2 linked regions of the Homo sapiens genome follow. The protein of the gene in region 2 interacts with the protein of the main gene of each other region in a biochemical or structural test. Each region holds a gene or a part of one and is shown on either strand. Other genes may lie near its edges. The genes, in order: CFLAR and DEDD2.

Region 1 (7,686 bases), on a different chromosome or scaffold from region 2:
GGCCAACATGGTGAAAGCCTGTCTCTACTAAAAATACAAAAAATTAGCTGGGCGTAGTGGTGGGCGCCTGTAATTCCAGCTACTTGGGAGGCTGAGGCAGGAGAATCACTTGAACCCAGGAGGCGGAGATTGCAGTGAGCCGAGATCGTGCCACTGCACTCCAGCCTGGGTGACAGAGTGAGACTCTGTCTCAAAAAAAAAAAAAAAAAAAAAAATTAGCTGGGCATGCTGGCGCGCACCTGCAGTCCCAGCTACTCGGGAGGCTGAGGCAGGAGAATCGCTTGAACCCGGGAGGCGGAGGTTGCAGTGAGCTGAGATCATGCCACTGCACTCCAGCCTGGCGACAGAGCGAGACTCCATCTCAAAAAAAAAAAGAATGTATTCTTTTTAAACTAAATTTATTTATATATATTTTTTGAGACGGGGTTTCACTCTGTCATCCAAGCTGGAGTACAGTGCTGTGCTCATGGTTTACTGCAACCTCAACCTGCCTGGCTCAAGTGATCCTCCCACTTCAGCCTCTTGAGTAGCTGGGACCACATGTATGCATCACTACACCTGGCTAATTTTTTAATTTTTTGTAGAGACAGGCTCTCCCTGTATTGCCCAGGCTGATCTTGAACACCTGGGTTCAAGTGTTCCTTCTGCCTTGGCTTCCCAAAGTGCTGGGTTTATAGGCATGAGCTACCATACCCAGCCAAGAATATATTCTCCCAGAATGTCAGAGGAGTTGAGGCAGGATGTGTGGCTAAGAGAGTAGATATAAAGTCATTGCTGTGGCTATTAATTCTCCATTCCCAAGTCACCCACTGTGATATAAGGAAAAGCATTAGATAAATTCTTGGCATCCTGTCCTAGTCCTGTCACTAGCTAGTTGTGAGATGTCTCAATTTATTAACTCACTTTAAGCCTCAGATTCTTCATCTGAAAATTGGGTTGTGGTTGACGGAGTGAGAAAATGTTTGGATTAGATCAGTTGTTCTGAATCTTAACTGTACATTGAAATCACACGGGGAGCTTTAAAAACTACCAATCCCTGGGTCTCACTCTCAGAGATTTTGATACAATTAGTCTGGAATGGTACCTGGCCACTGAGGTTTTTGCAGCTCCTTGGGGACAGTCTAATGTGCAGCCAAGGTTTACAACCAGTGAATTTGATGAAAACGTGAACATTTGTTGCTACTTTGTTAAGTGTGGAAACAGAAAGTCAGAGAGGCTTAAGCAATACTGCCCTTGGACCCAGGCACTGGGGGTCCTGTTGTGGGCCCTGATTTAGAAGGGCCTTGCTCCGGCTCTTCTTGGGCTGTGCCCTTCCCTCAGGTGAGGAGAATCATCAGAGGTGGGAGGAGTCTGCAAGGTCAAGAGGACATGCCCACACCGAGACCCTCTGTTTAAAACCCTCTTTGGGGCTGGGTGTGGTGGCTCTCGCCTGTAATTCCAGCACTTTGGGAGGCCAAGGTGGGCAGATCACTTGAGGCCAGGAGTTCAAGACCAGCCTGGCCAACGTAGTGAAACCCTGTCTCCACTAAAAATACAAAAATCAGCCGGATATGGTGGTGCGCGCATATAATCCCAGCTATTTGAGAGGCCGAGGCAAGGGAATTGCTTGGGCCTGGGAGGCAGAGGTTGCAGTGAGCCAGGATTGTGCCACTACACTCCAGCCTGGGTGACAGAGTGAGACTACGTCTCAAAAAAACAAAAAGAATAAACCCTCTTTGGGTACCTAAGACCTGAAGTTCTCTACGCAAAGAGCCCTGAGCCTCCCACCAGGGCCTACATTGGCCTCTTCCCCAAGTCCATACCCCAGGGACAAACTATGCTGCAAGTATGCACATCCCTAAGCCCAAGGGGTGGCTGATTTTAAGAGGATGTAAATGGAAAGTGGACTGCAGGTGGGAGTGTCAACATAGGTGTATACAGTCATTCTTTGAGGGCTGCTGAAGCCAAAGGATAAGGATGGCACAGGGGTAGGGGGTTAAATGCCTGCCCCTACTGGTTTGCCAAATGGGATGACAACATGGGCTTCCAATGTGAGCCAGAAAAAGCCCTCAGGGAACGACATATGGATATGCTGGGTTAGAAGTCATACTGGTGTGTGTTGAAGTGGTAAGAATCAGTGGGCATGCAAGGTGGGCCTGGGGTAAGTCCACTATGATGGTTCTACTGACAACCAGAAATGGCTTTCACTTGGGATAGGGTGGGTTGGAGGTGGTGATGGAGGTGCTAAGCTAGGTGTTCTTGAATAGTAGTTTCCAAATTAAGGACAGGTGCTGATCTGTAATAAAATTTTCTTGGTGTACTAAAAAGATAAGAAAGGCCAAGAGCAGCAGTGGTCATGCCTGTAATCCCAGTGCTTTGGAAGACCTAGGCAGGAAGATCACTTGAGGCAAGTTCAAAACCAGCCTGGGCAACATAGCAAGACTCCCTGCCACCCACGACCCCCGCTTCTACTAGATATATATATATATATATATATATATATATATATTTTTTTTTTTTTTTTTTTTTTTTTTTTTTTTGAGATGGAGTCTTACTCTGTCTCCCAGGCTAGAGTGCACTGGCATAATCTAGGCTCACTGCAACCTCCGCCTCCCGGGTTCAAGCAATTCTCTGCCTTAGCCTCCTGAGTAGCTGGGATTACAGGCGCCCGCCATCACACCCAGTTAATTTTTTGTATTTTTAGTAGAGATGGGGTTTCACTATCTGGGCCAGGCTGGTCTTGAACTCCTGACCTCGTGATCCACCCGCCTCAGCCTCCCAAAGTGCTGGGATTACAGGCATAAGCCATTGCGCCGGGCCACAAATTTTTTTTTAAAGAATTAGCTGGGCATGGTGGCACCTGTAGTGGCACACCTAGCATGGTGGCATGCTAGGACCTGTAGTCCTAGCTACTCAGGAGGCTGAGGCAGAAGGATCACTTGAACCTGGGAGGTTAAGGCTGCAGTGAGCTGTGATCGGGTCACTGCACTCCAGCCTGGAGTGAGACCCTGTCTCAAAAACAAACAAAAAACCAAACTTGGATAACTGACAGAGTTTAGGATAGAATTACATGGAAAAACCAACAAAACAAGACAATTATTAACTCCAGAAAAAACTAAAAGTTGTGTGGGAAAGGAAAAGTAATCATAGTTTGGTACATAACTTGGCTGTGACTACCGTTTACATGATTATAATAGCATATATACTGAAGATTAATCAAACAGAATATAACTATCTTGGGAAGATGGAGAGATTAAAAAAAAAGGTTGGGGGTGAATATGGGGTGAAAGTGATGGAGAAAAAGAGCTGAAGTCTCCTCTGGTGTCTCAGCACTCCACCCAAGGTAGAGCCTCTGGATGGAAGAAGGAATCTCCCACCTCTCCACCACACTCCCCCAGGATTTACCTTCAGCATCAGGTAGCTAGGGGCAAGATGAGAAATGCTGATATGCTGGTCTCTGACTGGGAGCTGTGGGAAGAGAGAGGTTCTGAGTTGCAGCAGTCTGGAGTGGAGTCTCTTGCTGAACAAAGGGAGAGGTTTGGTTTAAATACCACAGACTGACTCTCACATTCTGATCCAAGAGTTTTCATAGATTTTTTGGAACAGATGTTTCTTCATTTGCTGTTTGCCCTTAGGACCATTTCAAAGGCTTTAAATGGTTAATGGTTGTTTGTTGTTTTAAATAATTTTCAGTTTCACTAGGGGTGAATCCCGAGCTCTTCATGCCGTCCTGCTGTTAGTCTCTCTTGGTATTATTCTTCACCTTTCCTGTGAGTTTAAAATTATCTCAAGAAAAGTTAAAGCTCTTTAAGAATCACAATAAAGTAGTTATTAGGAATAAATAAAAACGTAGAGGGGCGCGGTGGCTCACGCCTGTGATCCCAGCACTTTGGGAGGCCGAGGCGGGCAAGGATCACTTGAGGCCAGCAGTTGGAGACCAGCCTTGCCAACATGGTGAAACCCCATCTCTACTAAAAATACAAAAAAAAAAAAAAATTAGTCGGGCATGGTGGCTTGCACCTGTGGTCCCCGCTACTTGGGAGGCTGAGGGCTGGATGGTTTGAGAGCGGGAAATCCAGGCTGCAGTGAGCTGTGATGGCGCCACTGCCTTCTAGCCTGGGCGACAGCGCGAGACCCTGTCTCAAGAAGGAAAACAAAAAAAAACAAACAAAAACATACACACAAAAAACCACAAAGTGTGTTCACGTTTGCTATGACTCCCAGACAACAATTGTAAACACTCGCGCCGGGCGTGGTGGCTCACGCCTGTAATCCCAGCACTTTGGGAGGCCGAGGCGGGCGGATCACGAGGTCAAGAGTTCGAGACCATTCTGGCCAACAGTGAAACCCCGTCTCTACTAAACACAAAAATTAGGCGGGCGTGCTGGCGCGTGCCTGTAGTCCCAGCTACTCGGGAGGCTGAGGCAAGAGAATCGCTTGAACTAGGAAGGCGGAGGTTGCAGTGAGCTGAAATTGCGCCACTGCACTCCAGCCTGGGCCACAGAGCGAGACTCTGTCTCAAAAAAGAAGGAAAGAAAGAAAGAAAAAAAAAAACACTCGCAGTGTTTACTCCTAACGCGTGGAACTTGTGTCGACATCCACCCCCGGTTACTGCATACTCAGTCACACAAGCCATAGCAGGAAACAGCGAGCTTGCAGCCTCACCGACGAGTCTCAACTAAAAGGGACTCCCGGAGCTAGGGGTGGGGACTCGGCCTCACACAGTGAGTGCCGGCTATTGGACTTTTGTCCAGTGACAGCTGAGACAACAAGGACCACGGGAGGAGGTGTAGGAGAGAAGCGCCGCGAACAGCGATCGCCCAGCACCAAGTCCGCTTCCAGGCTTTCGGTTTCTTTGCCTCCATCTTGGGTGCGCCTTCCCGGCGTCTAGGGGAGCGAAGGCTGAGGTGGCAGCGGCAGGAGAGTCCGGCCGCGACAGGACGGTACGTGCCCCGCGCTCGACCCCCGCGCTGGCGGCGCCGGAGCTGTCCCAGACCCCAAGCCCCGACGCCCGGCCCTGAGTCAGCATTGCAGCAGGCCCTGCGCCGCCGCGCCCCGCGTCCCACCCCGCGCCGCTCCTCACAGCCCTGCGCTCCGGGAAACTGCAGGTGGCCGGCAGTGGCCAGGGGATGGCGGGGGCGCTTCTGGAACCTGACTCAGTTTTGTAGGTTCCTTATCTCGGTTGTTTACCGCGGGCTTTGCGGAATGCCCCCGCTTCCGTTTCCGCCCGGCTCCGAACCCCCGAACCCCTTCTACCCGCAACTCCGCCCCGGATTCCCAGAAAGGGGCGACCTGGGCCACAGCGGTACAAGCTGCACCCCGATGGACCTGAGAGACCGGAAGTAACCCTTGGCCAACTCTGGCCGCCCCCTGCAGCCGCAGCCCCAGAGGCCCACCCGCGAGCTTCAGTGGCGGGCCCTCAGCGTCGTGTAAACTTTGCTTAAAATGATCTTGAGAGTTCAATTCTTGGGGTGAACTGTTGAGAAGATCTGGCATTTTTCCTTTCGAAAGTTGTTGGGAACGTGGACTTTCCCAACAATTGTGTATGCGCTCGATCTCACTCAGTGGGAGCCGCCGCCCTGGAGGGAATTTCACAATAGCCTGGTCAGGGCGGTTATTTTCCAGAGCAGTTTAATGTCTATTTTGCCCAAGTGCAAGGAAAGCTTGCCTTGGGAAAGCTGGGAATGCTTGGCTAATGAAAAGTTTTTAGAGCCTTTTAAAATGAACCTGTTTCTGCCACTTTTCCACCGCCTCAAAACGACTGGGAAATGTAAACTGGCTTCAAGATGTTCTTGCTTGAGGGTGTCTGGATTTGGACAGAAGGCCATGTTCTTTTAATATTAACAGTGGCACGCAGTAGAACAAAGGCCACTGAAATTCAGAATCAGTTTTTGGCTCCACGGGCAGGAAGTAAATTCAAGGACGCCAGAGGTCTTGCGAATATTTTAATTGGTTGACATTTGAAATTTGTTCTTAAGCAATGAGGGGTGAAACCAGTAGGGGGATAGCGTATAGCATAAGTAAAGCTTTTTGGACATCAACAAACTGCGATAATCTACAACAGACAGCGGGCTCTGGAAGGTTTGACCTGCTTTAGAGAGAGATTTCCGATAAGAGGAACGGAGTTTTTGGCACTTTTCGGTTTGGTGATTCCCCTAAATAACCTTACAAAAGTTTCGTTGAACAAAAAACCTGGCTGGAGCTCCAAGATCTTTTTTTTTTTTTTTTTTTTTTGAGACAGCATTTCACTCTTGTTGCCCAGGCTGGAATGCAATGGCACTATCTCTGCTCACCGCAACCTCCGCCTGTCGGGTTCAAGCGATTCTCGTGCCTCAGCCTCTCAAGTAGCTGAGATTACAGGCATGCACCACCATGCCCGGCTAGTTTTGTATTTTTAATAGAGACGGGGTTTCTCCATGTTGGTCAGTCTGGTCTCGAACTCCTGACCTTAGGTGATCCGCCCGCCTCGGCATCCCAAAGTGCTGGGATTACAGGCGTGAGCCACCATGCCCGGCCCAACTCCAAGATCTAAACAAAAAAGACTGGGTTGAAAGGGAGTTTTTAATGTTTACTGTTTGCTTTACATCCATTTTCTTGTTTTGTTAATACTTGCTTTACTTAAGCTTTTGGGTCAAATGTCCTCGTTAAAATGGCTTTCTCTAGCGACTTTATGTTTTACGTTTCTGTTTGTAACTGACATTTGACCTTCTTTTAACACGGTATTACTTGCTTCCTTATACCGGTTTCCAAGGTGAAGCCATTTGCAGGGTCGCTGGGTTTCCCCCTCCCCCCGAAAGTCTTGCGCGACCCGGGGTGGGCCGGATAGTGTGCAGTTTTTTGAGCCTTGGGCTGGGGACCTCCAGGAAGCTGAAGCGGAAATTGCCTAGGCCCCTGGGGCATTGGAGGTCCTACCGCAGCTCCTAGTAGGTGGTGGGGGCGCAGCGGCTGTCCCCACTCAGTCCTGGTGGGGTCGCACGTAACGGTCCTGAGCTATGCATAAGCCGTTTGACCACGCATGGAGAATTTTACCACCCAGAGACACGCGAGTGGCCCTGTGCAAGTTTCAACTGCGCGGGGGGCGGGGAATTCCGCAGACAGGATTCTAGAATTTATGTCTTGTGTGGTAACATTTCAGCCGGTGGGTGGCGGGGATTAGGCGTGAAGCGGTTCAGCAGGCAGAGGTTCTCGGACGCCCTCCGGCGAAGCCACCTGTTGATGCTTTTGACTTTCTGTCCTTGTTCCTCGTCCCATCTGGAGCATTTCCAATTCTGGTTTTGCGGAGCAGCAGGTCTGAGCTTGTCCGGCGAGGGTGGGAGTTGGTCCCGGCGGAGATCCAGTGGGAAGAGCCGGCGGCTGCCCGGGCGTGAGTAGACCGAGAATCCTGCCCGATCCCCGCCCCTGGGCTGGTGTCGCCCTGGGCTCCTGGGACGTCGGGGCACTGTCCCCCGATACTGGCAGAAAAGGATTGAGTCCTCGCTTTTGGCCCTAGGTCTCCTTGAGCCTCCAGAGGACTCACAACACTCCGGGGCATGTTGCTCTTTCAAATACCAGGAATGGACTCTGGGGAATGGGGCACCCTTGAAGTCTGATTATTTCTTCCCTGTAGAGCCCCAGGGGCTAATTAAACTCGTGTTTATGGACTCCAATGCCTCCTTGCCTTTAATTCAGTATAATCCTACCAACATTTATTGAGCTTCTCTGGGCCAG
Region 2 (2,873 bases):
TCGAGACCATCCTGGCTAACATGGTGAAACCCCGTCTCTACTAAAAATACAAAAAATTACCCGGGCGTGGTGGCGGGCACCTGTAGTCCCAGCTACTCGGGAGGCTGAGGCAGGAGAATGGCGTGAACCTGGGAGGCGGAGCTTGCAGTGAGCTGAGATCATGCCACTGCACTCCAGCCTGGGCAACAGAGCAAGACTCCGTCTCAAAAAAAAAAAAAAAAAAAAATTCCTGGGAGCCCCCAAGGACATACAGGAGCAAAGCATGTGTGAACATGGTTGGAAGGGTTTCTGACTCCGAGGCAGTATTCTATTTCTTCCTTTGACAGAGGACAAGACTGACACCCAGAGGGGAGGACAAGCGTGTGGTTATCAGCTGGCATATGGTCCAGCATCCTGCCCACACTCCAGTCCCTAACGCTGGGCCAGGAACACTCCTCCTCCCAGCCCACTGAGGTCCAAAAGCTGGGCATGGTGACGGGCACCTGTAGTCCCAGCTACTTGGGAGGCTGAGGCAGGAGGATCGCTTGAGCCCAGGAATTTGAGGCTGGCCTGGGCAACATATCAAGACCCTCAACTCTAAAAAAAAAATTTAAATTAAATAATAAATAAAGAGTCCTAGAGAGGCCGATGCCCACCTATGCCCTTTCCAGGGCAGTTTAATTGGTATCATTTGTAAAAGGTCTTTTCCATCACCCCCAAAGCCTTTGCATTCCCTTTCCAAGAAGGTGGCTGTTTACTGGTTTTGGCCCCATGTGCAACAGTAGGCCTTGGTATGATGCTGCCATAACACTCCCATGTGACACTCCAGGTGACATCCAAGTGCAAGTCTATGTTCAGCTCTGGACAGCAGGGGGGAAGGTGAGGAGAGTCAGGTCTGTAAATTGAAGCTGGGCAGGGCCCTGGCTGGCTGGAGATGTGTGGGCAAGGTGAGCAGGCCCCATGTGCACCCCAGCTCCAGTGCCCACTGATGTGGCTGAAGCCCAGGTTGGTTGTGGTCAAATTAGAGGTCCTGAGAGAGAAGCCCTTAGGCCAAAGAAGTGTGTGCTGGGAAGCAGGCCAGGGCAGAGGCCCAGGGAAGATCTCAGCAGGGGCAGTGTGAGCATGAGCGAGTGTGTGCACCTGTGACAGTGCAGACAGCCCAAGATCAGAGATACAATGTGCAGGGGGGCCTTTGGTGAGTGTGTAGCTGTGCCCCTCCCTTCTGAGATACAGGCCCAGCCCCCGCCTCCGGAGGCTAAGGGGGCACACCTGGGGGTAGGAGGAGTCTGGGAAGGAAACTCAGCTGGAAATGGTTTAGGCCTCAGAGCCCACATCCTGTGGGAGGGGCTGTCAAGGGGCCTGCTGTCCCGGTCCTGTCGCAGTCCTCAAAGATGCTAGAGTGACAGTCCTCTAGGGGTAGAGATGGTCGTCCTCCCAGGAGAAGGTGGCCCGGAGACTTGGAGGTGGGATCAATCCTGCCAGTCCTGGATCAGGAGGCCTCTGTCGGGCGCCGCCCCCCTTCCTCCTCCATCAGCAACAGGCGGCGCCGGCCAGCCTCATAGTCAGCCTCATCCACACTGACCAGCAGGCGAACAGCCTCCCGGCCCACAGCCTCTCGCAGGGCCTCAGTCAGGAACACGCCCCGCAGGGCCTGCAGCAGGGCGCCACTCAGGTAGTCGCCCCAGAAGGCGTCCAGATAGGAGAGCTCTGAGAACTTGATGTCACAAACCACAGAGCCCAGGTCCCTTGAGCGCAGCACTGCGGTGGCCTGCCCAAACACGTCCAGCTGCCGCGCCAGCGCCTGGGGCCGCCGGGATGCCACGCCCTGCTCCAAGGCTGGCCCATGCTCGCAGTACTCTGCTCGAACCCGGAGCCGGATGTCTGCAGGGGAAGGAGGGATTTGTCAGGGAGGGGGCCAACACTAGACACACTTATGGGGAACGCCACCCTTCCTCCCTCCAGCCTTCTCCCTCCACCCCCTTCCGGTAGCCACACCCTAGTCCTGACACAGCCTCCCCGGCTCTGTGGGGTTCCCTGACCAAGTACGTCCTCCTCTTCTCCAGCCCACCACCTCCTCACTGCTCCAACAAGCCTCCCCACCGCCAGGGGTGCTCTTTCCCTGGATCTGCACAACACTTGCTCCCTCTCTTCCTGCAGGTCTTTGCTCAAAAGCCACCTTGCCAACAAGGCCCACCTAGGCCAACCTATTTACAGCTGTAACCACCCACCCAGCCCTCTCTGCAGCATGCCAGGTCCCACACCCTGCTCCATTTTTGTCCAAGGCACTTATCACCTTCCAACCTCCTCTGTCAGTTACTATCTGCTCATTATCTGTCTCTACACTCAGCATGGAGAGACAGATGACAGCAAGGAAGGGGTTTTTGTCTGTTTTGTTCACTTGTGTAACTGTGGCACATAGTAGGTGTTCAATATGTATTTGTGAAGAACTAATGCATGAACTAATGGACTTGCCTTAAGGCAACCAGCCTCACACCCTGCCCCCAAACAATGAGATTCACATGGTGCCAACCACATCCCCATCCCTCCCATCCACCTGAGCCAGCACTGCGGATGCGCAGGGTCCTGACCAGGCCCGGGAGGCTTGCGGCTGGACCTGTGCTGGCTCTACTGGGAGTCAGGTACTCTCTTGCCACAGAGCTGCTAAGATGATGGGTTGGAAGCCCAGAGCTGCTGGGAGCCACTGTGCCAAGAGGAGAGAAGGAAGCCTACGCAGGGCCAGCCCCAGAGATAAAAAGATTCCTGAGGTCATCACATGAGCCCACGATCGTAGCTGGATTTTCAGCTACACTCAACTCCCCTTTTTGCTGAAGCCAGTTTGAGTCGGTTTCTGTCACAACTCTCCCCACATCTGCGCAAAAGAGGTGGCAGCTGTG

The links.
Region 1: the proteins of DEDD2 (region 2) and CFLAR form a complex in vitro, tested with the Homo sapiens proteins (2 studies listed by BioGRID).

What each region holds. Positions count from the first base shown.
Region 1 is NC_000002.12:201,111,560-201,119,245, forward strand, and holds the start of CFLAR (CASP8 and FADD-like apoptosis regulator), read left to right. Parts: upstream 1-4,604; 5' UTR 4,605-4,922; exon of another isoform or gene 4,923-5,125; intron 5,126-7,156; exon of another isoform or gene 7,157-7,342; intron 7,343-7,468; exon of another isoform or gene 7,469-7,686. UniProt on the Homo sapiens protein: Apoptosis regulator protein which may function as a crucial link between cell survival and cell death pathways in mammalian cells. Acts as an inhibitor of TNFRSF6 mediated apoptosis.
Region 2 is NC_000019.10:42,197,970-42,200,842, forward strand, and holds the end of DEDD2 (DNA-binding death effector domain-containing protein 2), read right to left. Parts: intron 1,861-2,873; coding exon 1,469-1,860; 3' UTR 629-1,468; downstream 1-628. UniProt on the Homo sapiens protein: May play a critical role in death receptor-induced apoptosis and may target CASP8 and CASP10 to the nucleus. May regulate degradation of intermediate filaments during apoptosis.